Linked DNA regions of Homo sapiens. Changing the gene in region 3 together with the main gene of any one other region gives a genetic interaction. Each region holds a gene or a part of one and is shown on either strand. Other genes may lie near its edges. The genes, in order: SHISA8, ZNF8, PTP4A3, ACR and KRTAP4-1.

Region 1 (6,189 bases), on a different chromosome or scaffold from region 3:
CAGAGGGCACCGGGTCACTGTCCAGGGTAAGGGGCGCCGCTGGCCAGGGAGGTGACCGGGCGTCTTGGGCACGGGAAAGGAAGGGGCGCTTGGTTCTCTGGGTGCCCATCTCCTGCTTCTCCCCACTCCTCCCTCCCCTCTTCCACCTCCTGCCTCTCCCCTGCCCCCACAGCTGTGACTCAAGGCTGCCCTTCCCTCCTTGGGTTTCAAAGGCCTCCCCCCACTCACCCCATGCCACAGCTCCCAGGTGAAGGTCAGGGCTCCCTCTGCGTAGAAAGGGGACTCTGGAACACAGTCGTGTGTTGCTGAGGCCAGGACAGGTGCTTGTTGCATTCTGAGCTTGGTGTGAAGTGGGCACTACAGGGTCCAGGTCCCCTTCCTCGGTTGGAACGAGGACTCTAGGACTCTATGTGTCCTGACCCTGGAACTCCCACCCACATGCCACACGTGGCACTCACATGCCCCCAGCAACCCCCATGCCCTGGGGCCTGTGCCCTCCTCATCCACCCGGTCCCAGCACCCTTTGGGCCTGTGGGCTGCTGACACCGAATGTGACAGGCTGGTATTTAAAAGTGACCATAGAGAAGCCTTCATACCCTGGCAGGCCAGATGTGGACACTTCCCCCTCCTGGGCCTCAGAGGCAGGGGGTGAGGGCTTCCTTGGCACTTCAGCACCCCTCGCTCCCGAAACCACGTAGCCCACTTTCTCCCAGGGAGCTCTAAGGGAAGCCCGGGCTGGCACCCTGGCCTCCACCCTCAGCTTCTGCACTGCCTTCAGGAGGTGGAGCCTCCTGGCCTGGCTTCTGGATGCTGCAGGGGTAGGGGCTGGGCTGCCCAAATTTGGGGGTCCCCCATGATGGGTGAGGGTAGCTTGGAAGAGGCCTGGATATGTCTTTGACAGGGGCGGGGAAAAAGGAACTTAGGGCTGCGATGGTGAGGGGTGGCTGCAGCAGCCCAGCTGACATGTTCATCCTGAACTCCCTGCACCTGCTGGGGATGGGGCAGCAGGTTTGGTGATGCCGCAGGAAAGCCATGCCCACCCTTGCTGTGCTGTGTGGTGTAGGCCAGTCCCTTCTCCTTTCTGGGCTTCAGGCTCCCATGGCCCCAACTCCCTTTTCTCTGCTGGGGAGACCTGGAATGGGACGTAGGCTTGTGTGTGGGTGTGTCCTGAGTCCCTGTCCTCCCCTCGAGTCTCACCCTTCATTCTGCTGTGTTGGGGTTGAAGGCCAGGGAAGGCTTCTCAGAGGGCTTGGGCGGGGCATCTGGAAAGAGTTTGTGCAAAGGCCCAGAGGCGTGGTGGTTACTCAGCTGTCAGGGAGACAGGAGCTTGAGGTGCTTGCCCAGAGATGAGGCCACAGAGGTGAGCCTCTGGGGAGAGGGCAGGGCAGGAAGGTCAGCCCAGGCAGGTACTAGGATGGTTTCAGACCCTGCCACCAAACCTGAAGCCAAACCTCGGCCATCCCTGGTGTCCTGCCTCCTGAATGACCTTCACGAATCAGCCATTTGAGGCTCTAGCCCCGGAAGGAGGGTCAGGCTGAGTGGGAGAAAATCATGGGTTCCGGGTTCTGAAGGCAGCTGGGCTGCAGACACTGTCACATCACAGCTGGGTGGGGGCTGGGTGTTGGGTCCAAGGAGGTGGCTGTCCAAGGTCACACAGCCTGTGGGTCCTGGGCTGCCACCAGGGGGTCTCCCAACATCCCCATTCCGTCACCCATCTGTCCTTCATGCCCGTGATGGCAGCTTTATCCCAGGTCCCAGCAGAAGCCGCGGCTGCAGGGGCAGTTAGGCAGGCAGGTAAATAAGGCATCCTGGGCCGGGCGCGGTGGCTCACACCTGTCATCTCAGCACTTTGGGAGGCCGAGACCGGCGGAGTTGGAGACCAGCCTGGCCAACATGGTGAAACCCCGTCTCTACTAAAAATACAAAAATTAGCTAGGTGTGGTGGCAGGCACCTTATAATCCCAGCTACTAGGGAAGCTGAGGCTGGAGAATCACTTGAACCGGGGAGGTGGAGGTTGCAGTGAGCCAAGATTGCGCCATTGCACTCCAGCCTGGACAACAGAGCGAGACTCTGCTTCAAAAGATAAAAAAATTAAAAAAAAGGATTCCTGGAGGAGGCCGCTGATGGGGTCTGAAGAATGAGTAGCAGTTTTTTGGGAGAAGAGGCAGGAAAGCAGAGAAAGCTCGCATTGGGAGGGGAGGCTCACCTGGGGAAGGTCCCTGAGAGTGGGCTCCAGGGAGGGGAGGGGAGGGAAGGGGAGCCTCATTAGAGTTTCCTGACCTGCTCTGGGAAGCAGCTGTCTTGGGGCCACAGGTGAGGCTGGCAGATACTGCCTGGGAGGGGAAACTCGTGCGTGATTTCGAGCACCGGAGAGGACGGCCTGGAGAGGCCGAAAGAACTGCCCAGGGCCACACGGTGAGACGGTGGTGGCCGGGGCTGGCTTTTGATGAGGTGGGAGACAGAGGGCCACCCCTGACTGCTGTCCCCGCAGGGCGCTGACAGAGCTTCTGAAGCAGCCGGGCCCCCAGGAGCCACTGCCTCCCACCCTGGGCCCACCCCTGGGTGGCTGTGTCCAGGTGCAGATGGGGGACGGCCTCCCCCGGGGCTCCCCCCACAACAGCGCAGGTGAGTCGGTGGCGGGCGGGGCTGAGCGGCGGCGGAGCACGCGGAGGGGCGTGAGAGGCCGAGAGGCGGTCCCTCGGCTGGGGCATAGAGGCTTCCCCGGTGGAAATGAGCCGCGGCCTCTGCGGGTGAGGGGCCCGACCGGCCAGCCAGCTCGCCAGGGTGGAAAGGGACCCCCCACGGGTCCTGCGGCCTCGAGTCTGGGGGGCTGTGATGTGTGAGGAAGGTTCCAGATGCAGGATTTGCTGGCCGGGGCTGTGATCTGAGGCTCGGGCTCCAGAGCCTCCCCCTGGGTCTCTCGAGAGGCAGGCAGGCTTGGCAGCCCCCACGCCCCGTCTGGGTTCTGTTCCTCAGACATCCCCCGTCTCGGCGGGAGCAGGTCCCAGGACTCCGCGCCTGGCTCGAGCGTCGCCTCCGGGCGAGCCGTTCATGAGGGTGGCACCCCCCGGGCTGGCTGCCGCCGCCGCTGCGCGTGACTCGGAGCCAGGCCCTGTTCCAGGCGCTGGAGGCTGCGGCGAAGACAGGCTTGGCTCGCAGCCTCGCCCGGAGAACGGTCCCCCAGGTTCTCACCGAACGGCCTCGGGGAGAGGACTACGGAGAGGTGACAGCGAGGGCGGAGTGAACCGGGGCATCGGACCGAGCCGCGTCTCACTCCTCGCTCCAGACAAGAAGCGCCTCAACAACGCGCCCCGGGGGTCGGCCGCCCCGGGGCCCCCGCGCGGCCCGCGGCTGCAGGGCGGCGGCAGCCTGACGCTGCAGCCAGACTACGCCAAGTACGCCACGTTCAAGGCCGCCGCGCTCAAGGCCGCAGGTGAGTGGCGGGTGCGGGCAGCGTCAGGGCACCTGGGCGCACGAGCTCCCGGACTGCGAAGCGCGGGGCCGCAGCTCCAAGCGCCAAATTCCCAGTTCCGCGCGCCCGCCGCTCGGCCAATCGGCTCCCTCGCCCCAGCGGGCCCCGCCCCCGGCCCGCCCCGGCCCGGTCCCCGTCCCAGTCCCCGGCCGGGACCCCTTGTCCAGTCCTGAGCTTGGGTGCTCGGCGCGGCGTCACTCTTCCCTGCCCTGTCCCCGCAGAGGCCGCCCCGCGGGACTTCTGTCAGCGTTTCCCCGCCCTCGAGCCGTCCCCGCGGCAACCCCCGGCGCGGGCTCCGCGACCATCCCCGGACTTGCCTGCGCCGCTGGACGCCTGCCCCTGGGCCCCGCCGGTCTACGCGCCCCCTGCCGCGCCGGGCCCCTATGCCGCCTGGACCTCCAGTCGCCCGGCCCGGCCCGCCCCGCTCAGCCACCCGACGGCTCGGGCCTTCCAGGTACCCCGGCGACCCGGGCACGCGGCCCGGCGCCAGTTCAGTGTGAAGATGCCTGAGACCTTCAACCCGCAGCTCCCCGGCCTTTACGGCAGCGCGGGCCGCGGGTCCCGGTACCTAAGGACCAATAGCAAGACCGAGGTCACCGTGTGAAGCGGGGCCGCGGTGCCCTCGAGGCATGGGCTGGGGTCCTGTCTGCCCGTCGGAGCCTCAGGCCACAGGGAGAGGAGCGCCTGCCGTAAGGCCAGCTCTTCTGTCTGCCTCAACGGCAGTGGTGTCTTGGAGCCTGCAGGCCGCGGGTTCGTCTTGTAAATAAGCCCTTTTATGTGGTTCCTGCCCCTGAGAATAAAGAAGCCCCAGCGTGGCTGCGAGGCACCATTGGTCACTGACTGTACAGATGGCAGTGCAGGCAGAGGGCACGGCGAGTGCAAGGTTGGAGGACTGCTCCAGTGCACCGGCCAGAGCCAGGGGGAAGTGGCTGGAGAGGGGGGCCAGGGTTGAATGTCAGGGTTAATGCCCACCCCCGTGGGAGCCCTGGGAGAGAGGGAACAGTTAGACTTCAGCCATAGAAAGGCCCGGGCACAGGAGAGAGGGCTGTTGGGTCCAAGGCCCAGTGGGGGGTCCATGCCCTGTACTGAAGGTGAGCCCCCTCCAGCCGCCACTCTGCAGCTTGAGTTGGCTGAACCTGGCTGATGCTCACTGACCACTGGCTGTGGGCCAGCCCCTGGCCTGCAGGTCGCTTGGCCAGATTGGCCCCGGGCTACCCCCCTTAATGGGTGTGGGCCGTGTGGACATCTGGTGCTCCGGATGGGGGCGCCTCCTCCCAGGAGCTTCTCTGAAGGAAATGGGGGAAAAGCTGGAGCAGGGTCCCTGGCAGTGTCCCTCCGGGAGGGCTTCCTGCACCTGGCTGTGGTCCAGAGCACTGCTAGCAGTCTGCGTGCATCTTCCACAGAGTTCCTCTCCGCCAGGTAACACTGGGGAGGCTAGGGGTCAGGGCTGTGGCTGGTTGAGGTGTGTGATGTGGGGAGGCTAGGGGCCAGGGCTGTGGCTGGTTGAGGTGTGTGATGTGGGGAGGCTAGGGGCCAGGGCTGTGGCTGGTTGAGGTGTGTGACCTCAGCAAAGCCACCCAGGTGGGTCTGTTTCCCTCCTGAGTACCTGAAGTGTGGTGTACTGTTTTAAGAACAATGGCCACCATTTGTTGGCCTTTCTCAGGAAATCCACAAGCGCCTCAAGTGGGTGTGTCTTTACAGAGGAGGAAATTTGGGTTTTGAAACCTAAGTAGCTTGCCCAAGGTCACCCAGCAGACTCCCAGGTTAGGACTCTCCCGAATTGCTGTGAATCGGCTGGAATGGCAAGCAACAGGCAGTTTGGCTGGGAGGGAGGGTTCTGAGGGTTGGTAGGGAGGGGTCCCTGTTCCCAGGGTATATATAAACAGTCTGGAGCTTTCCTTCTGCTGGTTGGGCTGCCCTGAGGCCCCAGAACCCACCAGGCCCGGTCTCCGCTCCTGCCACAAAGGGTCCACCTCCCTGTCCCTTTAGGCTGTTAAGGAAACCAAGGCCTAGAAGCACCAGGACAGAGCTCTGGGCCCACGGTCCTGCCCCTGTCCCACAGCTGTGCAGAGCTGGAGGAGGGTGGGGGCTGAGGCATGGAGCCTACACAGACTCACAAAGGAATCTGGTTGCTTCTCACCCCACCTCCCACCCCCTGCTGGGCTGTGCCAAGAGTGGGCAATTCCCCCTGCTCATTCTCAGTTCCAAGGGCCCTGGATCTCCATCCCAGTGGAGCCAGGCTGAGGCTGTGGGCAGTGGCCATCCCTGAAAATGATGGAGCTGTGCACGGGACCAGCTGCAATTGGGCCTCACCGGGCTGCTCTGGTCTCAGGGTAGCCTGCTGTGACTACCCTTCAGAGAAGGATGTGGCTCATAGCTGAGGGATTCAGCCACATGCTCAGTCACATCCTGACTCCTCTTGCGACGAGGCCCAGCACTCCCATCCCAGTCTGTGGTCCTGTCCCCTGGTGTGTCTTACGCCAAGCCTGGCCTCACCAGCCACACAAGGCACTCGCTGTAAACTTGCATCCCATCACTCAGTCCTGGCAGACAAGCCTTTGGAGCTGCAGTTCATGGCTGAGCTTAGCTTCCCAATTCTGCACACGTGGAAGTGGAGACTGAGGCCAGGTCCCACCCCAGGTGACCCAGCTGGGAAGCACAGGACCTGGACTTGGATCTGACTTGTGGGCCAGTGAGCCTCCTGGCTCAGAGGATC
Region 2 (6,657 bases), on a different chromosome or scaffold from region 3:
ATCACGGTTCACTGCAGCCTTGACCTCCCTAGTTCAAATGATCCTCCCACCTCACCCTCCCGAGTAGCTGGGATTACAGACATGCACCACCACGCCCTGGTAATTTTTGTATTTTTAGTAGAGATGGGATTTTGCCATCTTGCCAGGCTGGGCTCGAACTCCTGGGCTCAAGCAATCCACCTACTTTGGCCTCCCAAAGTGCTGGGACTACAGGCGTGAGCCACCATGCCCAGCTTTTTTTTTTTTTTTTTTGAGACCGTCTCTGTTGCATAAGCTGGAGTGGCAGCAGTGTGATCATGGCTCAGTGCAGCCTCAGCCTTCCTGTCACAAATGATCCTCCTGCTTCAGCCTCTTGAGTAGCTGGGACTACAGGTGTGTACCCCCACACCTGGCTAATTTTCTTTTTAAATTTTTTTGTAGAGACACAGTTGCACTGTGTTGCCCAGGCTGGTCTCAAACTCCTGGGCTCAAGCAATCCTCCTGTCTTGGCCTCTCAAAGTGCTGGGATTACAGGTATCAGCCACTGCACCTGGCCTTTTTTTTTTTTTTTTTTTTTTTGAGACAGTCTCACTCCGTTGCACAGGCTGGAGTACAGTTGCATTATCTTAGTCTCCTAGGCTCAAGTGTTCCACCTACCTCAGTCTCCCTAGTAGCTGTTACTACAGGTGTGTACCACCATGTCCAGCTGATTTTTTTGATTTTTTTCTTTTTCTTTTTTAAAAATTATTTTACTTTTTTTCTTTTTTTTTCTTTCTTTCTTCCTTTTTTTTTTTTTTTTAGAGATGGGGTCTCGCCATCTTGTCCAGGCTGCAGGCTGCTCAAACTAACTCCTGGGCTCAAGCAATCCTGCCTCAACCTCCTAAGTGCTGGGATTATAGGCGTAAGCCACTATGCCTGACTTTTTGTTTGTTTGTGTGTCCTTTTTTTTTTTTTTTTAATAGAGATGAGATCTTTCTACACTGCCCAGGCTGGTCTCAAACTCCTGAGCTCAAACAGTCCTCCTGCCTCAGCCACTGAAAGTGCTGGGATTACAGGTGTGAGCCACTGTACCTGGTCACATGTCTAGATTCTGTAAACTTGTTCCCCACACCCTTCTTTATTCTCTTATGAGGAAGAATTGTGTTTAGCTATAAATACCCTAAAACCAGGTTGGAGCAGCTCAAAATAAAGAAGCATTTTTCTTGTAAAACAGGAGCCCTGAGTCTGCTGGTACTGTCTTGGCATCTCAGAGGTGCCAGGGCTGATTGTTCTGTGATTTTCCCAGGCTGTCCTTGGGATTACAGTGCAGCTGCAGCAGCTCCAGCCATCACAGTTGTGCTCCATGCAGGAAGGAGGGGAAGAGGTAGGAAGAATTCTGCCAGCCACATCTGTCCCCTTTTGGCAGAACTCTAGATGTCACCTGCTGGGGTCTCTTTAGCCAGAACTAGGTCACCTCCTCTTGCACTGACCCTAGTTGCTAGAGAGGCTGGAAAGCTAGGGGTGTCTAGATTGTCATAATTGGCTTGGGCGAGTCATGGTCCCCTTGCTGTGGCTTGTGTGTTGGTACCCTGACCACATTCTAGAGTAAATAGCATCTGGCCATGGGATGTACAACCAGCAATGCCTGCAGATTAGCCTCCCACCCAAATACTTCTGATGCCACCCAGGGCTTTCTGATTCTGCAGAAAAACACATATGCCCCCATGATAGCGTATGACCTATCAACTGGGAGTCGGGTGAATCTGCTGCAGACCCTGTTTTCCTGCCCCTTTCATCGGTTGTCACTGCTGTTACTTCAGACATGTATGTCGGAAGCAAATTCTCATCACCCTGGACATATGCCTGTCACTCACAAGTCTTATGCCATAACCAAATCCAGGATCTAAAACGTGTGCCCATAAATACTAAGCAAAATGTTGTGCTTGCATGGATTAGGAGTATGGGGTCAAAATCATGATGGACAGTTTCAATAACTTAATACCTAGACAGTTATAAATACTCCAGAAGCAGAAGGTTTTCAAGGCTTTATGTTAAGACAGAAACATATTTTCCATGTAATGCTTTGTATTAGTTTCCTGTTGCTCCTGTAACAAAGTACCACAATCTAGGTGGCTTGAAAAAGCACCGATTTGGCTGGACGCAGTGGCTCACCCCTATCATTCCAGCACTTTGGGAGGCCAGGGCAGACGGATCACTTGAGTCCAGGAGTTCGAGACTAGCCTGGCCAACATGGCACAACACCGTTTCTACTAAAAATACAAAAATTATCCAGGTGTGGTGGTGCATGCCTGTAATCCCAGCTACTCAGGAGGCTGAGGCACAAGAATCTCTTAAACCCAGGAGGTGGAGGTTGCAGTGAGCTGAGATCATGCCACTGCACTCCAGCCTGGGCGACAGAGCAAAACTCTGTCTCAAAGAAAAAAAAAAAAAAAAAGGACAGATTTATTTTCTTATAGTTGTGGAGGTCAGAAGTTCAAAATGGTTCATCAGGGCTAGTTCCTCTGACGGCGCCCAGAGAGAATGCATTTCTGTCTTTCTCAGCAGCTGGAGGCTGCCCAGACTCCTTGGTTCATAGACCCTTCCTCCATCTTCAGAGTGCTTCACTCTGACCCATTTCCATTATCACAACCGCTTCCCTGACTCAGACCCTTCTGCTTCCCTCCTATATGGACTCTTTGGTCAGATTTAGGGCCCCAGGATAATCTCCCATTTCAAGATTCTTTTTTTTTTTTTGAGACAGAGTCTCGCTCTGTCACAAGGCTGGAGTGCAGTGGTGTGATCTCGGCTCACTGCAGCCTCCGCCTTCCCAGGTTCAAGCGATCCTCCTGCCTCCACCTCCCAAGTAGCTGAGACTACAGGCCGTGCCACCATGCCCAGCTAATTTTTTGTATTTTTAGTAGAGATGGGATTTCACCATGTTGGCCAGGATGGTCTCAATCTCTTGACCTTGTGATCCGCCCGCCTCAGCCTCCCAAAGTGCTGGGATTAAAGGCGTGAGCCACCGCGCCTGGCCCATTTCAAGATTCTTTTTTTTTTTTTTTTTTTTTTTGAGACGGAGTCTCGCTCTCTTCCCCAGACTGGACTGCAGTGGCGCAATCTCGGCTCATTGCAAGCTCCGCCTCCCGGGTTCACGCCATTCTGCCTTAGCCTCCCGAGTAGCTGGGACTACAGGTGCCCGCCACTGCACCCGGCTAATTTTTTTTTTGTATTTTTAGTAGAGACGGGGTTTCACCGTGTTGGCCAGGATGGTCTCTATCTCCTGACCTCGTGATCCGCCCGCCTTGGCCTCCCAAAGTGCTGGGATTACAGACGTGAGCCACCGCGCCCGGCCATCAAGATTCTTAATCACAGCTACAATATCCCTTTTGCCACATAAGGTTCCAGGGATTGGGATGGGGACATCTTTGAGGGGCCGTTATTCAGCATACCACATGATTAAAATAGAGAGTAAATTTTTTTTTTATTATTTTTAAGGAAAAGAAGCCTAGTCAATAGAAGAAGACCGCGTCTCTACAAAAAAATTTAAAAATTACCTGGCATGGTGGTGTGTTCTTGTAGTCCTAGCTACTTAGGAGGCTGAGCGGGGAGGATTGCTTAAGCCCAGGAGTTCAAGGCTACAGTGAGCTACAATTTGCACCACTGCACTCCAGGCTGAGCAACAGAGCATTAAAAAATAAAGGAAAAGAGGCCAGGCATGGTGGCTTACGCCTGTAATCCCAGAATTTTGGGAGGCCGAGGCGGGTGGTTCGCTTGAGTCCAAGAGTTCAAGACCAGCCTGGGCAACCTGGCAAAACCACATCTCTACAAAAAATGCAAAAAAATTAGCTGGGTGTGGTGGTGCATGCCTGTGGTCTCAGCTGTTCAGGAGGCTGAGCCCAGGAGGTTGCAGTGAGCTGAGATCATGCCACTGCACTTCAGTCTGGGTGACAGAGTAAGACCTTATTTCAAATATAAAATAAAATAATGGTGAAGAATCCCTGTCCAGGCAGATCCCACTCCCAGTGCACTCACAGGGGTTTGTGGGCTCAGGGATGGCTGGGCGATCTCAAGCCCCTCCTTGGCCCCTGTCACTCGTCTGGCATCATTCCTTACTGGTTCCCTCTTGCGGTTGCTCAGCTTCACCTGCTGCAGGTCACCTCCTGGCTGACTACAGTCCCAGCTCTTCTCCCATTTCCTCTCTTCATCAACTGCTCACCCTCTCTCTCGGAGACTCCATGGCTTCCCATGTGCCAGGATCAGTGAGTTGTTCTGGGCAGCCAGGAGTCAGGCTGGAGTTGGAGCCTGTCTCAACCTCAGTGCTCTTTGCTGTTCCTGGCCAGGCCAGTTCACTAGTGTTCTCAAGTCCCCCTCCTCCGGATGTTCTTCCGCACTCTCCCAGCAGGCAGCGTTAGTCTTGGCTGGGGTCACAGTGTTGTCTTTAGTCTCTGTGTTTTCGTCCGTGTTGTCTCTCAGGCAGTCTCCCAGCTCACGAGCCTGTTCCATGGATGTTCCTGAGGACCTGCCATGTGCTGCTGTTTGTGCTGTGGATGCAGCAAAGAATGACAGGAAAGGCTGAGCCCTCACTCAGCATCTGGGAGATGGAAGTCTTGAGAGATGGATGCCAGTGCCAGGCAGTGATGAGGCCGTAAAGGAAATGCACCTGGGGAGGGCAAGATGGGGTGCTCATGCCCCGGGACTGGCAGGGAGGCCTCTCTGAGAAAGTGACTCAAACTGGGGCACAGGGAGCAAGGTGGGCAGATGTCTGGGGATGAGGGTTCTTGGCAGAGGGAGCAGCAGGTGCAAAGGGCCCCAGGAAGGAGTATGGGGGATGCATTAGAGGGATGTGAGGAGCCATGTGGAGCAGAGTGGGCGTGGGGCAAGAGTCAGGAGGTGAGACGAGCCAGGGCATGGTGGAGAAGGGCACAGGGTCGTGTCCATCCTCAGAAGTGACTGCAGAGTGAATGGAGGAGTGACCAGGGCTGGCTTGCAGTGGGGAGGAGGGTGGGTCTGTTTGGTTTTGCATAATAGCTTTATCAAGATAAAATTGACATACCATAAGTTCACCTATTAAAATGTACCACTCAGCGGTTTTGAGTATATTCTCAGATTGTGTGCAGCTATCTTTACTATCTAACTCCAGAACATTTCATCACCATCTTAGTCAGCTTGGGGTACCGTGACAAAATACCACCGCCTGGGTGTCTTGTACAACAGACATTTATTTCTCACGGTTCTGTAGGCTGGAATTCTAAGAGCACAGTGCCAGCTGATTCGGGCCCTGGTAAGGGCCCCTTCCTCAATTGCAGAAGGCCGCCTTCTCTCTGTGCCCTTATATGGCAGAGAGAGGAAGCAAGCCCTGTGGTATTTCTTCTTATAAGATCACTAATCTCATTCTTAAAGGCCCCACCCTCGTGACCTAATCACCTCCCAAAGGCCTCATCTCCAAATACCCTCACAATGGGGATTAGGGTTTCAACATAGGAATTTTGCTATCGACATTCAGTCCATAGCAGTCACTCTCCGTCTTTCCCATCCCCTGCCAACCAGTAACCTACTTTCTCTCTCTATGGATTTGCCTGTTCTAGATATTCCATACGAATGGAATCTTACAATTTGTGACCTTTGTATCTGGCTTCTTTCACTCAGCAGAATGTTTTCCGGCTTATCCATGTTGTAGCGTATGTCAGTACTTTGTTCTTTTTTGTGGCTGCATAATATCCCGTCGTATGGATAGACCATATTTTGTTTATGCATTTGTTGAGGGGCATTTGGGTTGTTTCTACTTTTGGCTATTAATTAATAGTGCCACTATGAACATTAGTGTATAAATTTTTGTGTGAAGTGACTTATATTTTAGAATAAACCTCTGGGTGCTATGTAGAGAGTCAGTTTTTTTTTTTTTTTGAGACAGAGTCTCTGCTTGGTCGCCGAGGCGGGAGTGCAGTGGTGTGATTTTGGCTCACTGCAACCTTCGCCTCCCAGGTTCAAGCGATTCTCATGCCTTAGGCTCCTGAGTGGCTGGGACTACAGGTGTATAACACCACACCCGAATAATTTTTGTATTTTTAGTAGAGACAGGGTTGGCCAGGCTGGTCTTGAACTCCTGACCTCAAGTGATCCTCCAGCCTCGGCTTCCCAAAGTGCTAGGATTACAGGCATGAGCCACCGGGCCTAGCCAGAGAGTCATATTTGGGGGCCAGAGGTGACAGAGCAGGAAGCCTGGCACCTGGCCAGCCTCAGCTCCTCCATTATCTCTCCCGTTGTCAAGCTCTCATTCATTCATTCCCTCGATACGTTCCTTCAGCATTCACTGAGAGATATTTTTGAGCTTCTACTACTTGTCATTTCTAGGCACTGGCTGTGAACATTCTAGTGCGGTGAGGTGTACCCAGAATGAATGAACACATGACCTGTATTTTGGTCAGGACAAGAGCAGATGAGGGGGCTTGAAGAGGGCTTGGGGAAAGCGGGAAGCCTGGCTTATAACAGAGTCCCTGTCCTAATCCCCAGAACTGGTTATCTTGGATACTGGGTGAGCAAGAGGGTCAGAATCAGACAAGGAGATGTGACAGCAGAAGCAGAGGTGAGTGAGAGAGATCTGAAGATGCTGTGCTCAGCTCTAGAGGTGAAGGAAAGGGCCAGGAATGCAGGCAGCCTCTAGGAACGGGAAGATGCAAGGATTTTCCCCAGAACCTCCCG
Region 3 (6,657 bases):
AAGCCCTAAACAGTCCCAGAGAGGTCCTGCTCATTCCTGGGTCAGCCCCTGCAGCCCTGTTCGTGACTTGTCTGTCCCTGTCATGGACTGTGGGCGGCAGACAGGGAGCGTTGACTGACCCATGCCAGGTCCCCAGGATCAGGCACAGGGTCAGGCCCAAAGCAGGTGTCAGTTAATGCCGTGGGATGAGGATTTCTGGCAGTTTAAATTACTTCTTGAACACTCCTGGCAATGTAGACAGTCAGTGCCCAATGAGTGCTGCCAGTTGGTGGTACTGGCAGCCTGAGTGCCAGGCGCTGCTCCATGCCCTTTATATGTAAAGGCTGTGTGGCCCCCACAGTGGAGACAGGTAGGTGCGGGAGGGAGCTCAGAGCTGGGACAAGCTGACTCAGAGCTGCCACTCCTACTTCCCCACGCACCCCATGGCTGCCTCCTCCTGGAGGCCCTCAGGGGGTCCTTGAGGATGGAGCCCCTGCCTCTGCAGAGATGCTCTGCCCCCAAGCCTCTGCTGACTCAGTACCACCTCCCAAGGACCCGTCCATTCTGTCCATCCAAATCCCACCTCCCTGGAGGCCCATTCACCAGCCCACACTTACTGGGCACCTACTGAATACCATGGCTATACTGTGGGTGCAAGAGAGCTCACGAGGAGAAAGGCTTAGTTCCTGGCATGACAGCAAACTTGGCAGAGCAATCAGGAGCTGGACTCATGGGGGCCAGAGACCCCAGGACCCCAGGACAGGGGGAGAGAGGCCCTCAGCTGCTGGGGGGCCCTGCCCCAATGGACCCTCCAATCCTATGAGAGTCCCCTATCCTTGATCCAGTTTCTACCCCAACCCCCTGAAAGGGGGAGAGGCGCAGAGGCCCCGAAGAGGGCCCACCTTGTCCTGCACCATCCGTCAAGTACAGCAGCTCCTCAAATAACACTGTTGCTTTCAACGTGGTTTTGTGATAACGCTGACGAGAAAAAAAAATCGCTTCCCTTTCAGGGCCATTGCGTGGCATGTGCACGAGCTCCCCAGGTCTGTGTGGGTTTTCTCCCTGTCCTCCGGCTCCCCCATACCCCAGTGCTGTGCACATCCGGTGAACAGGCGTGTCGCCGTGGCCCTGGCTGAGTGGGTGTGGCTGTGCATGGGAGTGTGCCCCGAGAGGGGATGGTGTCCTGAGCAGAGTCAGGTCCCACCTTGTGCCCAGAGCTGCTGAGACAGGCTCAGCCACTCATGACCCTGCACTGGAATTAGTGGGTTGGAAAATGAATGAATAAATGAATAAAAATTATTGCAAAATAAAAATTCGTCAAATAGACATAGTCAGACGAATGCGTGGCAATACAGGAAGCCGCCACGTTTGTGATCGTTTGATTTTGAAGTGCGTGGTGGCAGGAGGAGCTCCCGACCATGGTTGCCGTGAGATGTGTGTTCCGTTACCACTCACTGGCCCACGGAAAGCTGGGGAAGCAATTCTCTTCCCTGTTTAATTCACTTTTCTTACATGTATGTGTAGCTCACATTTACTTCAGTGTTTAATGTTAGAAGTGTTTGGGGTCTTCATTGGAAGCCTGGTGACGTTTTTGTGACCAGAAATACCTGGCAGGAACTTAACTCTTATCTATCTCTATCAACTTATGGGAACACTAGTGTCCTTAAACCAATTTTCACTTAAAACTGGCATCGTTTTGCTTAAAGCCGCAGCTTCCAAGAACTTATGGATGATGTGATGTGAGGACTTACTGTACACCATGCCCAGGAAAAAAGTCTGGGGTGCCCCTGTGGCCAGCCTGGGCCCAGCCAGGCCATCTCCCCAGGCTCGGGACTCTCAGACCAGAGCCTCCCCCAGAATCCCACAACATTCTCCCATCTCAGCAGCATCAGCAACACCAGGGAGGGCAGTGCCACGGCACACACGGTGCCCAGCCTCCTTGGCCCCGCGCGAGGCCGCTGCAGCCTTCCTCTGGGGCTGCGTGCTGGTTGCATGCCCTCTTTCACTTACTATCTTGAATGAGTCAGGAAGGAGAGGCTGATGGGGCTCATCCTGGGGTTGGCCCAGGGCTCTGCGTCTCTGACCTGGGGAGCTGGCTAACCCTAAGTCCCGTCACTCCCTCCGAATCAGAGGCACCCACACCCCAGGGCTGCTGGGAGGCTGGACGGAAGAACAGCGGCCCTGGTGCACACAGGAGGTGCTTGGGACCAGCCAGGGACCCTCCTGAGACATCTATTCCTGCTCTGGACCGGCCCGCTGGCCAGGCACCCAACAAACAAGCCCCCGGGCTGCCCGCAGGCACCTGGATCCGCCAAAGGCCCGGTTCTCACGCTCACTTCCTCTTCAGGGGAGGCTGGGGATGCTTGCCAGGCCCGAAACCCCAAGACACTCTCAGGGAGGGCTTTACTCAAGACGATCATGAGTAGGCACCTTCTAAAGGGATGAGAAAGCGGAAGCAGGGGGGAGGGGTGGGGGGAAAGTGAGGAAAAAGGGGAGCAGGAGGTATGGGGGAGGGGAAGAGGGGTAGCCAGAGGCGGAAGGGCCAATCCTCAGCCTCCCCATGTGGGCGGGGGCAGGGCTGCCTGCCCCCACTCCACCCAGCTCCCGAAGGCAGGAGGCCGGGACAGGCGCGAGGCCGCCAAGAACACAGGGCGCAAGGCCCCACGGAGGTCAAAGATCCCCCTAGGGCCAGGTAGTCCCTGCTGGCAGTGTCTGTGGGAAAGGCCCTGGGCCTAGCCAGCTACACTCAGGCCTGTCAGTGGGCACTGGGGCTGCCACAAATGCCGGGGCAGCTGGACCCATCCTGTGGAGTGGAAACCCAGGCCCCTGAGCCCACTCCAGGAGGGTCCAGACCTACAGGGTTATCTGGGGGAGCCCTCCCTGAGCAGGGCGCCAGAGGGCTGGAGGAGGTGGTGGAGAGAGGGGTTCTGCAGGGCCACAAGTACCCCGACTGGTCCCATCCATGCCTTCAGCCCCTGCCAGCTGTGCCTGCCCACCTCTCCCTTCACCTGCTCCACCCACACCTTGCAGCCTCAGACCCGTCACCCAGGGCGGCCTCCAATGTTTCTAGAGGCTGCACCCTCTGCTGGCACCCCTCTCCCCAACTCCCTTCTCCTGGACACCCCAGCTGCTGCCCAGGTCTCCTCCTCCAGCCCCGACCCAGGGTGGCTTGTGTGATATCAGGGGAGGTGTGGGATCCCGGGAGCTGGAGGAATGGCCCTGGCATCACGGGGCCCCCCTGGGCTGAAGCTGGAGTGGCCTCGTCCATGCCTTGAGACTGTGAGCTTCATGGGACTGGGCCCTGCTGGGGCCACAGCGGGGGAGGGGTAGGTGACTGTGTGGATGGACAGATGGATGCGCTCGGTAAATGGTTCTGTCCATGCTCCGGCCCACGTGCTCCAGTGCCTTGGAGCCCCGCTCCACCTGCTGTTCTCTGAGCTCCCTGCCCCCGCATGCTATCCTGGGACTCCACAGCACAGACCTCTGAGCCGATGGCTGTCCTCACAGGCCCGGGGCCCCTCGGGACGGCCCTTCCGGTGACTTCCTGCCAGGGAGGCCAGGGGGAGGGGTAAACAAGGCCTCCAGATGGCTTCCTGTGGCTGGGCAGCCGTGGGAACAGCCCGGCCCAGGGAGGCTACCAAAGGAGGGGAGGGTGGGAGCAGGGGCCAGCCAGCAGCATCCGTCAGCAGAGCATCTGCTGAGATGGACCCGCTGCCCTCTCGGAGCCTCCGACATGGCCGGGGGGACGTCACACCCTGTTTACAGAGGGGGACACTGAAGCACAGGCAGGCAAGTTACCCCAGGGCCAGCCCACCAAACCCAGTGCCCTCCCCTCCACACCAGAGACTCCCGTCTCTCTGGCCTCATCTGCAAAGGAGCAGATGAGCTGGCTGGCTAGAGGTCACCTCAACGACAGGACGTGCAGATGTGCAGGTGCCAGCTTGTCTGTCTTCCATCCCAGCACTGCCACTCCCCAACTGTGCTACCTAGCAGAGTGCCAGCCTCAGACACCAGCTTCCCTCCCTGGGAAACAGGACGACCATGGCAGCTGCCACCAGGGGACCCTGAGGTTTAAGGATGTGCCCTGGGTGAGCTCCGGCTGCTGGCCCAGAAGAGGCTCGCGACGGTGCCATTAAGAGTGATGCCGTTCCGTCAGGTCCTGGGTCCCCAGGAGGAGCCTGTCCTCACCCGGCTTGCCCCTTCCTGGTGCCTCGTGCATGACTCCCTCCGTACTGTGATGCCATCTCCTCCCAAAAGCCCACCCTGACTACCTGCTTCCTGCCCCACCACGACCTCTAAGTCTTGGGGACACATGCTCCAGGGAGGGAACTGCCATCTCCTACAAGTCCTACTCACCCATGGGATTTCTCTGGGGTCAGGACCGCCCCTCTCTGCCTACTGCCATCCCCACGGGGCCAGTGTGGACCCGGGCAGCCCCCCAAGAGTTATGGGGAGGCAGGAGCTACACAGCAGCCAGGATAGGGATGAAGGGGCTGGCAGACACACAGCCGGGCACCAACAACCCTCCCATCTGACCCAGGGTTCTGCCAGCGGGCCAAGAAAGACTCACCCCGGTGCCGAGACGCACATCCTGGCTGTCCATGGCCTCACTTAGGAGAGCCCATCATGGGGGTGGGGGGATGGCTGGTTAATAAACAAGCATCTGACCAGACCCAGAGACCAGGGTCCAAGGGTGCCATCGGGAGAGGACCCCAGTCAACACCCAGGGAAATTTCAAGTGACACTGTAAAACAGCACCCGAGGCCGGCACGGTTCTTGTGAAATGAAGCAGAAGCCCAGAGCTACTGCAGCCGTGTATTTCCCAGGCTGTTTGAATTTTTATAATGAACATCACCAAATGTGTGTCTAAAACAATAACCACGTTTGCGCCTGGCACAGTGGTGGGCCGGGCACAGATGTGGGCCGGGCACAGTGGTGGGCAAGGTGCAGAGGCGGGCCAGGCGCAGAGGTGGGCCAGGCGCAGAGGCAGGCCAGGCACAGTGGTGGGCCGGGCGCAGTGGCTCACACTGTAATCCCAGCACTTTGGGAGGCTGGGGCAGGAGGATCACTTGAGTCCAGGAGAAGCAGCCCGGCTAACATGGTGAAATGCCATCTCTACAAAAAATAGCTGGGCATAGTGGCGCATGCCTGTGGTCCCAGCTACTCAGGAGGCTGAGTCAGGAGAATCGCTTGTGCCTGGGAAGCGGAGGTTTGCAGTGAGCTGAGATCGTGCCACTGTATTCCAGCCTGGACAACAGGGTGAGACTCCGTCTCAAAAAAGAGAAAACAATAACTACATGTTTGAAGCGTTGTTCAAATGTCGCCTCTCCCCCATGTGAGCTCCTTGTGGGTCCCGCAGTGCTGCCATTGCACGTCCCCAGCCTGCCCCAAGAACACAACCTGGCAGGTAGGGAAACTGAGGCACCCATGGACAGCCCTCCCCCAGGTCACAGGCCTGGAAGAGAGTAAAGGGCATGCCACCAGGACCCCGTCCATCCATTGCAGTCACCGACTCAGAAGCAAGCAGCCTGGCTCAGGTGGCTGGAGCTCAGCTGCCAGGCCTTTGTCCTGATCCCACCCATCTGCTGTGGGGGCCGGGGTCTCCCCCAGGCTCCCCATTCTCCAGACACAAAAACGGAGGCCCAGAAAGGGCAGGAGCAGGGAGAGTCGGCAGAGCCAGGGCCAGGCCTTGTAGCTCCCCAGGGCCATGCGGAGGGGACAGGGAGGCCACCGAGGGGAGGGGCAGCCGGGAGCCCCGGGCACCCCCAGGGACCCCCTGAGCTCCACACGGCAATTCCCAGCAGATGGGCCTCTGGGCAGCTGGCCAGAGGGAAGCAAAGCCCGGGAGGAAGGGCCTCTGCGGCTGACCCAGGACGGGGAGATTAAAGGAGAAGATGTTTGCCTTGGCAGGGGCCCCAGGACCAGGCGAGCCAGAGGAGGGGGCCAGCGTTCCAGGCATCAGTAGAAGATGCCAGAGTGGGGGTGCCAGGAGTAAGAGGCACCGGCTCTAGGGGCAAGGGCGGAGTGGATGAGCAGGTAAAGCACACCGTGTGCCACAGGAGGGGTGGTGACAGGGACCTGAGGCAGGCGGGCAGAAACCCTGGGTGGGGTGGCGGGGAATCCTCCGAGCCCTCCCGAGCCTCTTCCAGGAAGCCTGAGTCACAGGAGGGACCCAGGGCCAGGAGAGCAGCCGGGAGCACCGGTCCCGTGGGAAGGGGACTGAGATGGGGACAGGGACAGGGCAGGGCCACCCGTCACCTCCTCTAGCTGGGCCAGGCCTGGCTTCGAGGTCTCCGTGGCGGGTGAGGACGAGGCCGTGGGAACAGGCTCCTGCAGCTCCCCAGAGGGACTAGGGGGTGGTAGAGCTAGACAGAGTGGGTCCAGCCCATCCTGCAGAAGGGGAAACTGAGGTCCAAGAGAAAAGCCTCCTGGACAATGACGTCATCAACTGAAGTGTCCCCTGGGCAGCCCAGGCCTGGACACTGGGGAGAACAAGGCAAGAGTCTCCCCAGCCAGGCCCTGAGCACCCTCATCCGGGGGTCTTCAGGTTCCAGAGTCCAGTTCTAGCACATCCACCCTCAGCCATGGACCCGAGACCCTCCAACTCCCAGGGTTAGAGACTTCCTCTTGATGCCCTATTTCCAGGACCCCACCCCAGGGAAATCTGATCCCCGCAGG
Region 4 (5,475 bases), on a different chromosome or scaffold from region 3:
TATTTAGACAATGTCAAGTGTCTGGCACCAGAGTACAAAGGGAGATTAAGAAACTGGCTTTAGGAGAGAGAGCCTAAAAGTCAATAAAATGAATTACCAACTCCAACTTCAGCAGCACCAGCTCTTAAGCCAAGGCAGATAGAATGTTTTAAGTGTGATCAACTGTTACTATCCTACAGAGCCATGGGCCATTCGACTCAATACGCAAGCCCTCCTATGTGGCCAAAGCATTTCAGGGGTCATAAGAGGAAAACGGCAGGCACCGAAGTGCCCCTGCAGATAAGCGTAAGATTATGCACCAGCAGTCACCACCAGCTGGCCCATGAATGACAGCCCACGTTCGTGGGCATTTCTGGTGTGTCAAGACCTGCTTTAATACTCCGCATCTGTCCTTATTTCATGGTCACACAGCCCTCTGGCACATCTTCCCCAGAGCACGGAGCTTATGCGGGGTAGAGCAGGGTATTTGCTTGAACCCAGGTAGACCAATAAATTTTGAAGATGAAGATTCACAGCTGCTCCATCAGTCCAGGTTCCAGCTCCAGCAGGAAAATGACTGGTCCTTTGAGCTTTCTCAGCCAGGGTTCCTCCCACCTGCCATGGCACCTTCTCTCTGCCACCTGTCTTGGTAACCGGGGCATAGGACCACCTTGCGCTTGACTCACACAGGCAGCTAGGTGGACACACGTATGAGTGAAAGCTTGTTGCAATGACTGCTCAGCCAAATGCCAAGGTTTTCTCTCTTTCTGAGACCTGCCATCTTCAGTCTCACAAGGGGTTAAACCAGCAGTCAAGTTTTGCATTTTTACTCCCTGATCAGAGTGGGCGGTTGGCCTGAACCTATCAGGATTTCCTTCTTTTTTTTTTTTTTTTTTTTTTGAGATGGAGTCTCACTCTATCACCCAGGCTGGAGTGCAGTGGCGTGATCTCGCCTTACTGCAACCTCTGCCTCCCGGGTTCAAGTGATTCTCCTGCCTCGGCCTCCCGAGTAGCTGGGATTACAGGCACCGCCACCTCACCTGGCTAATTTTTCTGTGTTTTTAGTAGAGATGGAGTTTCACCATATTGGTCAGGCTGGAGGATTTCTTCCCCAGGATTTTGCAAATAGATGTGAACAGTTCCAGGTGACAGCTGCCCCCAGCATGGGGCAGTGTGGGGCAGGTACTCTATGCAGACCAGGGTCATGCCTTGCCTGGGTTCCTCACCATTCTTGGTGTCTGCTTCTGGCCTTTCCTATTGGTTCTGTGTGACATCTTTGCATCCTTATCACTTAAATGGCTCTAACTGGTTTCTGTTCCTTGCAATGGAAGGTCTTAAAATAAATAACCCCAAATCCTAAGGAAGCCACTCAAAGCTCACTCGGGGGCATCCAAAAAGTATTCCCCATTGCAATTCCTAGAAAGCTCTAGCAAAGAATACATTTTTTAATTTGCTCAAATCCAGGAACTAATAAGATTTAACTACAGGCAAGTAATGAACAGGCTTGTTGGTGTCAACTGGACACTAACAAGCCACAAGCAAAATTGTGTTTGGTAGTAGACACTTGTTTTGGTGGCCTAGTGGCCTCCTTAGCCTTTGTGTTCTGGGGAGTTCAACCTTCATGCAGAATCTTCTCTGTGGGTGTCAACACCACCAGCCTCCTGATAGAAGACTTGGACCCACACCCCCTCTTTCCCCGTCAGCTCACTCACAGCTGCTGCTTTGGGGGTCCACCCCCTTTGACTTGCACATGCAGAGATGGCTCTTTTATTTTCACCATTTGTCGTTTCTCCCTAAGTGTGAAATAAAGACCATCCCCGGTCTACGGCCCCAGGTCACCTTATTCCAGCATTAAAAATCAAGATTTTAAAAAACACGATTGGCACTAATGTACAAGCAATTCCGCCTTATTGTAGGGTGAAGGAGAGAGGGTAGATTTTATAGGGGAAATTTGGGTTGGGAGGGGGGATAGGAAGAAGTCCAGAAAGCATCTCTTGATGTATATGCATGTATACATACAGATATGTGTGTGTGTATATCTATATATATATGTTTATTTATTTATTTCATCTTTCCTTTTTCTCAGGAGTGAAGGGCTCACTGGGTCTGTTGAGAACCAGGTCAGATCAGGAGGTCGAGGTCAGTTCTGGGAGCTCTGTGGTCTCCATGTCATAATGGTTCTTTCCGTCGGAATAGGTCTTCCCCTTCAAGACCTCTATGAGCTGCTGTAGGCGCTTGGCAAAAGAAAGTCCTTGGGGAAGTTTTGTGGTAGATGAGGGTGTAGGTGGGGGTGGGGGTGGGGGTGGGGGTAAAGGTGAGGCTGGAGGTGGGGGTGGGGGCGGGGGTGAAGGTGGGGGTCGGGGCTGGGCTGCCGGTGGTCGGGGTGGAAGTGGTCGAGGGGGCGGTTGGAAATACCAAGGAAGGTGAGCAGAGATAGGGTGGGAGAAGGGGGGTCGAATCGGGGGCGGTCGAGTGGTGGGAGGTGGAGGGGTGGCCGATTGAATCATACGCAAAGCGTTAGAACCAATCTTGGAGGCGATCCAGTTCAGATAGGGCCAGGTGGCCGTGTAGATTCCGGGGCGCTTGGCACGGGCACAGCCTACCCCCCAGCTTGTGATTCCCACGACCACATAGGCGCTTTCCTTGCTGTCTTTGCACATGAGAGGCCCGCCGCTGTCTCCCTGTCCAGAAGGACACAGAGGTCACTATCTGCCTGAGCCACTCTTCCCCTGCCCAGAGGGGTCGGAAGGCTCTGGGAGGACAATTTCCACAGTGACATGGTCTCCTGCTGCTGTAAACACAAGTGGTTGTAGTAAAGTTTGAGGGGGTGTCAGGGGCTTCATTTGGGATGTGAGGAGGGTGTGAATTGTCAGGGCTTTCCTTGCAGTGAGATGAGCAAACCCACGTGTCCACAGGGGCACATGGCAGGGGCAGCCGGTGGCTGTCACCGCTCATCCCCACTGTGAGAGTAGGTGCTAGAAAAGGGACCGGGGAAGCAGTCACTAGAGAAGGGCCCTGGGCAGAGCAGTGGAGATAGTGGAGCTTGGGGATCCAAAAGGAGGATGTTCTCAGGGGCCGGGAGAGTCCTGGAGGGACCCAGGGGCCCAGAAGCCAGAAGGAAGGTTACCTGGCAGGTGTCGATCTTGCCTACAGGATACCCCGCGCACACATTGGTTGGCTGAACGCGCCCATTGTACCACTGGGTCGAGTTACACAAGTCCAGGTCGATGAGATCCACACGTGCCTCCATCAGTATAGATGATGGCCTGGGGGCTATAGTCAGACCACTCGGTGGTCAGTGATCACGGGAGACACGGACAAAAGCCCTGCCTCCTTGCCCCACCGAACCCCATCCTCTGTGATGCTCCAGTTAAACCTCAGACCCATCCAGTCGATGCCCCGACCCCTCCTTATACACCAGAAAGAGCAGACTAGAGGTGGTGGGAGGAGGTGGGGAAATGTTATCCAAATCAAGGCCAGAGGAGAGAGGAAGAGAGGAAGGAAGGGTGGAGGCCCGTGGACAGGTGGATGGGGGGTGGGTGTGCGTATTAACGATGGATTATGGAGGTTAGTTGCAGTATTACCAATAACACCTAGTGTGCACCAAGCACTCCCTGAGTCACATGGTCCCGTTATTCCCATTTTGGATCAGAAGGCTGGAGCACCGCCCACCCAGGTCACAGTAGAGAGGTGGTGGGGCTGCAGCCTGGCCTCAGGACTGCTCCTCTCCAGACTCCAGTCTGAGACACACTGTCCACTCCCACAGTCTGGCTGTAAGCCACTCCCCCTGCTTCTTGTCCCTCTTCAGAACTCCTCGGCTCAGCTGCGGACGGGATCTGCTGCAGCTGGGTCAATAAGTCCCTCCCCATATGCTGCATATCTGTTCCGAGGAGACCGCAGGGGAAGCTCGGGGCAGCGCCTCCACACACGGGCAGACCTGGCAGGGGCAGGGGCGGTTGAAACAACCCCGATGCGGACTTCCTTGAAAGCCCTGGACTTGGCTGGGCGCGGTGGCTCACGCCTGTCATCCCAGCACTTTGGGAGGCCGAGGCGGGCGGATCACGAGGTCAGGAGTTCGAGACCATCCTGGCTAACACGGTGAAACCCCGTCTCTACTAAAAATACAAAAAATTAGCCAGGCATGGTGGCGGGCGCCTGTAGTCCCAGCTACTCGGGAGGCTGAGGCAGGAGAATGGCGTGAACCCGGGAGGCGGAGCTTGCAGTGAGCCGAGATGGCGCCACTGCACTCCAGCCCGGGCCACAGAGCGAGACTCCGTCTCAAACAAAAAAAGAAAGAAAGCGCTGGACTCTCTACCGTGACCTTTGGGTTAGAAAGACCCGATGCTACGGCGCATGCGCCAGCGTTGCTCCTTTTCAAGGGGTCCCACAGACAGAAGGGTCCCCAACAGCAGCAGCCACTCTGGCCCCCACCGCAGCAGCACCTACAACCCTGGGGGTGGATCTGGACGTCACCTGCAGAGCAGATGGGAGCAGACTGAGGTAGGGGCAGACCCAGAACATAGCTGCACAGGCCAGGACGGGAGACAGGGGACACACGAGTGACGTGCATAGGGCTCGGCACACAGCAGGCGTCTGGTAAGCGGCTGCTGAACGAGTGCTCGCTGGCTTTCCGTTTTTTAATCCCCTTAGCCCCCACCTTTTCTTACCATCCAAGCAGCAGTGAGAGTTTTGTACATGCACTGCCCTTGGGGTAGGGGTGACATTGAAACAACAATGACAACAATCCTGGCTTATTAGCCATTAAGACGATTTTTTTTTTTTTTTTTTTTGAGACGGAGTCTTGCTCTGTCGCCCAGGCTGGAGTGCGGTGGCGCCATCTCGGCTCACTGCAAGCTCCGCCTCCTGGGTTCACGCCATTCTCCTGCCTCAGCCTCCCGAGTAGCTGGGACTACAGGCGCCCGCCACCATGCCCGGCTAATTTTCTGTATTTTTAGTAGAAATGAGGTTTCACCGTGTTAGCCAGGATGGTCTCGATCTCACGACCTTGTGATCCACCCTCCTTGGCCTCCCAAAGTGCTGGGATTACAGGAGTGAGCCACCGCGCCCGGCCAAGATGACTTTTTAAGTCTAGGGCAGAGCCCATAGTCTTGAAAGCCATGGGTTTTATTGTGAAGAGCCAGGTGTCCTCAAACAGAAAAGGGTTTTCTAAATCCCAACACCTTGGCGGGTTTTTTTTGAGATGAAGTTTCGCTCTTGTTACCCAGGCTGGAGTGCAGTGGCGTGATCTTGGCTCACTGCAACCTTCACCTCCCGGGTTCAAGTGATTCTCCTGCCTCAGCCTCCCGAGTAGCTGGGACAACAGGCATCCACCACCACACCCTGCTAATGTTTTATATTTTTAGTAGAGATTGGGTTTCACCATGTTGGCCAGGCTGGTCTCAAACTCCTGACCTCAGGTGATCCACCTGCCTCGGCCTCCCAAAGTGCTGGGTAAATTACAGGAATGAGCAACTGCACCCAGCCGACACCTGGGCT
Region 5 (5,726 bases), on a different chromosome or scaffold from region 3:
TGCTTCTAACTAAAGTCCTTAACTCTTGGGCCTATTGATATTATTTGGTTATGGAATGGAAATTATCTCAAAGACATGAGAAACTGTGATAAGTTTGAACTTCCAAAAGGGAAAGTAGTTGCTAAAGAGCAGAGGAAACAACCAGATGGCTGCCTTGGAGCTAGGCTGCCTTGGGTAAAACATTCACTTGTCATGGGGAGATGAGAGGCTGCTGTAAACATGGTGACACACGCTATAAAGACAAAACAGATAACATTTCTTGACAATTTGCTTTGCCTATCCCAGACAAGTGTGGACAGTAATTGGTATTTAGGTATAAATTATACCAATGAAAATGAGAAATCTACCAGTATTTCTCGCTTTACCTTCCTGCTGTCTACCCATCAGCTGAGTGGCACCCCCATCATTTGCAATGACCTTCCACTGCATCTGTGCTTCACCTTGACAGCCTTGGCATTACTGCTTACTGCACTCCTGCCCATATTTTCTGATCCTTCATGATTATTATCATTATTGAAAAGAATATTATTTCCCCATTTTAGAACATCTATAATTTTTTTGGTCCTTTCCTGAGGATAATTTTTATTCTATTAAATCCTGTATTTTGCTCAAGTATATTTTTTTTTCATGTGGAAGTGACATCAGGCAGAATAAGCAAAGCCATGTGGCTACAGGAGACATATGGTTTGCTTGTCTGAATATGACCAAGTTTACCTGAGATACAAGAAAGCTGTAGAGTCTAAGCATATCCCGAGAGTGCATTCTTAGCTCACAGCTTAAAATTACAGCCTGAGTCCTTCTCTTTTACAACTCTATCATTGCCTACCATTCAAACCCTTACCCAACTCCTCCCTGACTCTTCCCCAAAGAGGATATTCCCTTGTCCTTGTGTGGCTCCATCTTTGACTAAGAGCTTTCTCATTTGCCTATGACTTTTAGTATAGTACCATTAACATAGAGGTGATGGGATGAGGCCAGTGAGGTTTAACTTCCACCAAATTTGGTCAACACCAACTGTTTCTTAGCTCATCTCAGTCTTGTCCTCATAAGAATGTAAACATTTTCCTATATTTTCCTCCTCTTCATTTCATGGGTCTGTGACCTGCACATCTTCCCTGTACCAACTTAACTCATTCTATTATTAAATGTGTGTATATGTATATTCCTAATGTCTTACTCTTCCCCAAGACAGAAAGTTCTCCTCTGATCAGTACTACCCAGCACAATCTATCTACTTTGCTCTTTCCTCTTATTTCCAAGATTAGACGGTGAGCTCCTTTTAGGAAGCTCCTGTGCCTCACATATCTTGATGTGATCTCCAGAGCCCAACAGTGCAATGAACATGACAGATGATCAATAATTTCATTGACTGAATAAGAAACTTTTGTTAGTTAAATACAGCGAGTTATCTTATTTTGAAAAATTTATGAAGTCCTTTCTATAATATAAGCATTACATTATATTTACAAAATCAGTTTTCTTTCCTGGTCGTGGTAACCCAAATTTGTCTTTATCTTGAGAGAAGTAATGCTAAAAAATAAACTGACAACTAATTCTCAAAAAAATTGAAAAAAGAGAAAAGAATTACTGATATTAAGATAATATTTATTGAAGAACAGTTAATATGTAATTTTGAAGGTCAAATCAAGCATAACAGTCAGAAACTTAGAGGCTTAGTCTAACTGCATCATGCATCTGAGGTCTGAATGCTGCTGGGAAGAGATCCATGGGAAAAATGAGTGGTATTAAATGTAGATGGATGCCCTTTCACCAGTTACTTAGTGGAATAACAGGATAATAAAGCTGATGGCCATTTAACACATGGACAAGTTGATATAAATGACACTTTCATATCATGGGATGGTGACTGGCTCATGGTTGATAGTCCAATATGAGGTTCAACAAGAGGATCCACAGCAGCTGGGGCGGCAGCAAGTTGCACGGCAGCAGGTGGTCTGACAGCAGAGTGGACGGCAGCAGCTGGACACACCACAGCTGGGGCGGCAGGTGGTCTGACAACAGAGTGGACGGCAGCAGCTGGACATACCACAGCTGGGGTGGCAGGTGGTCTGACAGCAGAGTGGGCGGCAGCAGCTGGACACACCACAGCTGGGGCGGCAGGTGGTCTGACAACAGACTGGGTGGCAGCAGCTGGGGCGACAGCAAGTGGTCTGGCAGCAGGTAGTCTGAGAGCAGGATGGGCGGCAGCAGCTGGATACAACACAGCTGGGGCAGCAACAGGTGGTCTGGCAGCAGCTGGGGCGGCAGCAGGTCTCTTGGCAGAGGCCTTGATCACAGCCCTGGTCAGAGCAGACAGAGCCACAACAAGAGTTAACCATGGTGTCAGAGGGTGGAGGTTCTAGGTAGGTTTCCAAGACAGTGAGTTTTTCGAATGTGGGAATCTCCTTATCCCATGTCCACTTTTATACTCAGCTGAGGAGCTGTTGTCACCACATAAAAGCTATTTCCTTGTTATTGTTTATCTTAATAGATAGGCAATTATCAAGTTAGCTAATTGTGGGAAAATATCTGTATAAAAGGTGGAATGCACTTTTATTCTTTCTCTGTGTTAGAGTTTAGCCAATCCAGTCTTTCCTCCTCCTCTTGTCTTCAGTTAATTTAGTGTGTCATTTAATTTCAAAGACTTGTAATCTTACTCATCCAGTCGATTGTCAGGTGACAGATCACTTGGAACTCAGCATTCTGTGTGTCATCCTGAAAACTGTGTGTCTCACAGCAGTCCTCAAATGGGATGATGTTTCTTGTTTTCTGAAGATTCTTCTGAGAAAAATAAACTGTGAAACAACTAGAAGAAAACAGCAGAAATTGTCTTAAAATATTAGAAGTGGAGTGGATTTTCTAATACAGAAAAACTTAACAACAATGAAGAAAAAGATTGAAAAAAATTTACAACAGAAAAAAACTCAAATGCCTGATTGAAAAACAAGAAGGCTAAAGAGTAAGCTGAAAATAAATAATAATACCTTAACCAATCTACAAATAAATGAGCTAATTTTCTTAATCCATGAATACCTCTTACAACCCAATGAGAAAAACAACAACAACAACAACCAAACAGAAAATTGAGTAAAGGATATTAACAGTGATTTCACTAAAAAAAGAAATTTAAGTGCCTTTTGAGCTTCTGAAAGATGTTTAGTCTCACTCATAATTTAAGGTATTTTAATTGAACAACTTATTCACTCATCAAACCATCTACCGAATACCTACTGTGTGCCAGGTTCTACTGCATGCTCTCGGGATATGGCAGTGAATACTTGCTATTTGTAATGACAAATGTAAAATATTTAAGTTTAAAAACTTTAATAAATTGGTGAAATTATAAAGACATTGACATTTTAATACACAGTTGGCAGGGATCTAAATTGAGGCAACTTCTTTAGATGGTAATTAACAGAATCTGAAATTTAACAGTATCTTAAATTAATTTAGCATATTTTGAAATGTGCGTGTGTTTTGATTGAGCCTTTTCACTTCTAGAAATGTATTCAACAGATGCACCTATACATACCTTCCAAGATGTAAGTTCAAGGGTATTCTTTGCAACATTGTTTGCAAGAATAAAGCCTGATTTTAAATTCTATTGTGTTTACGGAGGGGAAAGCCCTTGATGTAGGCAACACACACTAGTGCTCAGAGGCAGTGAAGCATCACTTTCTTTTTATCACCAAAGAAACCTCTTTGACCTATTCTTGCAATTTTTCTATAAGTGCAAGACGACATTAATTTTTAAAAAAAGAAATTAAGAATGTTATCTCTTTAGGCCATCCCTATCCCATGCAGACACCTACTTTCTATTTAGACTGAGTTATTCAGGAAGGAGGGAAGAGGGGATGGAAGGAAGGATACAAGAACATATTTAGAATATATTTTTATGGACATATTTTATGACTATTTGGGGTATATATAAAAATTATGAAAATTCAGTTCGTTAGGCATAAAATGGCATAAAAATATCCATTGTGTCTAAGTTGATAATGATTTTACTCAAATTCTCCATATCTTTGTTTACTTTTCTTCTTCAAATGACCGTTTTTGAAATAGTATGTTTAAAGCCTCTGCTATGATTGCAGTTTTATCACCTTCCTGTCTATTTATAACAGGTTTTTTTCTTTGCACTTAGTTTGAATGTAGCCCAACTTCTTATGACAACAAGAATATTAATATTTTTGCAGACATAATTAATGTATCATAAGGAAGTCACTATCAAGGTCAAAGCAAGTGCAGGTATCATAGGCTTGGGATTCTGGTCTAACTGAGCCACAGTTCTATGGTCACTTGTTTGTTTAGAAATAGCCCTCTCTGTCTGAAGGCAGGGGAGACAGCTTAGAGATAACCCTTCTCCTTAAAACAAGTATGTTTTCAACATGGTAGTTGACTCAGGCTGGTGGTCAGGAATGAAATTCAACAACAGGATCCACAGATTGGTGGTCTGGCAGCAGACTGGATGGTAGCAACTGAACTCACAGAAGCTGCGGCAGCAGCAAGCGGTCTTGCAGCAGGTGGTCTGGCAGCAGCTGGGATGGCAGCAGATCTCTTGGCAGAGGTCTTAACCACACCTCTGGTGACAGCAGAAGGAGCTGCAGCAGGAGCTGACCATGGTGTCAGAAGGTGGAGGTTCTGGGTGTGGGTTTTCAGTGGCATAAGGTACTAGAGTTCATAAGCCTTCTTCCTTCCAAGTTTCCTTCTCTACCCTGCTGAGGACTTGCCATCACCATGACCTGGGTTATTTCCTTGCTATTGTTTATCTTACCTGAAGAGAAATGATCAGATATTCTGATTGAAGCATGACATTGTAGCAGTTAGCCTTGGTTTTTAAAATGGATGCTAAGGTAATTTCCATTTAATCAGTTATTTATCCCTAAAAGCACCATTTTTCTTCCTTTTTTGTTTTAGCATCATCTCATCCATTCCTTCATATACTTTTCAGAGTGTGTCATTTGATATTCTGAGCACAGGACGAGTCATTCTTTTGTTCCAACCATTTAATTTACTGTTCCTGAATGAGCTGCATAGCCACAGTCCCTTCAATTTGAACAGTATTTAAAATAGATGTAAACATGGATATGTTAATACCCAAAAAATAAGACCCCAGTACATTATAGCAAATAGCTGCTAATGAAATCAGCATAGCACACTTATAAATTATGAAGTAGCTAAAAAACATCTAAGGCACGTGGCTTCAAATTTAACTTGTTCAGAATAGAATTGCTCATTCTGTTTCTTTTCCGAACCAATGCCCTAATTAATTCCCCAGTCCTATTACAAATGGTTGTTAGTCCAAATTTTCAAGCTAGGGCTGGGCGCAGTGGCTCACGCCTGTAATCCCAACACTTTGGGTGGCCAAGGTGGGTGAATCACCTGAGGTCGGGAGTTCAAGACCAGCCTGGTCAACGTGGTGAAAGTCCATCTCTACTAAAAATACAAAAAATTAGCCGGGAGTGGTGGCACGTGCCTGTAGTCCCAGCTACTCAGGAGGCTGAGGCAGGAGGATCATTTGAACCCATGAAGCGGGGGTTGCATTGAGCCAAGATCACGCCCCTGCACTCCAGCCTGGGCAACAGAGTAAGACTCTATCTCCAAAAAAAAAAAATCAAGCTAGTAAATGTAAAGTTCTTCATTCAATAATCATGTTTTGGTTCCCGCTATGTGCCAAACCCATTCTCAGGGTGGAGACACAAGTGAAGAATACTCCACCCCATCCT

The links.
Region 1: changes in PTP4A3 (region 3) and SHISA8 together harm fitness less than expected from each alone (positive genetic interaction), as found in Homo sapiens cells (one study listed by BioGRID).
Region 2: changes in PTP4A3 (region 3) and ZNF8 together harm fitness less than expected from each alone (positive genetic interaction), as found in Homo sapiens cells (one study listed by BioGRID).
Region 4: changes in PTP4A3 (region 3) and ACR together harm fitness less than expected from each alone (positive genetic interaction), as found in Homo sapiens cells (one study listed by BioGRID).
Region 5: changes in PTP4A3 (region 3) and KRTAP4-1 together harm fitness less than expected from each alone (positive genetic interaction), as found in Homo sapiens cells (one study listed by BioGRID).

What each region holds. Positions count from the first base shown.
Region 1 is NC_000022.11:41,907,653-41,913,841, reverse strand, and holds the end of SHISA8 (protein shisa-8 isoform 3 precursor), read left to right. Parts: intron 1-2,492; coding exon 2,493-2,626; intron 2,627-3,002; coding exon of another isoform or gene 3,003-3,287; coding exon 3,288-3,434; intron 3,435-3,694; coding exon 3,695-4,077; 3' UTR 4,078-4,299; downstream 4,300-6,189. UniProt on the Homo sapiens protein: May regulate trafficking and current kinetics of AMPA-type glutamate receptor (AMPAR) at synapses.
Region 2 is NC_000019.10:58,287,104-58,293,760, forward strand, and holds part of ZNF8 (zinc finger protein 8), read left to right. Parts: intron 1-6,657. UniProt on the Homo sapiens protein: Transcriptional repressor. May modulate BMP and TGF-beta signal transduction, through its interaction with SMAD proteins.
Region 3 is NC_000008.11:141,398,521-141,405,177, reverse strand, and holds part of PTP4A3 (protein tyrosine phosphatase type IVA 3), read right to left. Parts: intron 4,608-6,657; exon of another isoform or gene 1-4,607. UniProt on the Homo sapiens protein: Protein tyrosine phosphatase which stimulates progression from G1 into S phase during mitosis. Enhances cell proliferation, cell motility and invasive activity, and promotes cancer metastasis.
Region 4 is NC_000022.11:50,741,838-50,747,312, reverse strand, and holds the end of ACR (acrosin precursor), read right to left. Parts: intron 3,253-5,475; coding exon 3,107-3,252; intron 2,661-3,106; coding exon 2,106-2,660; 3' UTR 1,974-2,105; downstream 1-1,973. UniProt on the Homo sapiens protein: Acrosin is the major protease of mammalian spermatozoa. It is a serine protease of trypsin-like cleavage specificity, it is synthesized in a zymogen form, proacrosin and stored in the acrosome.
Region 5 is NC_000017.11:41,182,516-41,188,241, forward strand, and holds KRTAP4-1 (keratin-associated protein 4-1), read right to left. Parts: upstream 2,397-5,726; 5' UTR 2,340-2,396; coding exon 1,899-2,339; 3' UTR 1,585-1,898; downstream 1-1,584. UniProt on the Homo sapiens protein: In the hair cortex, hair keratin intermediate filaments are embedded in an interfilamentous matrix, consisting of hair keratin-associated proteins (KRTAP), which are essential for the formation of a rigid and resistant hair shaft through their extensive disulfide bond cross-linking with abundant cysteine residues of hair keratins.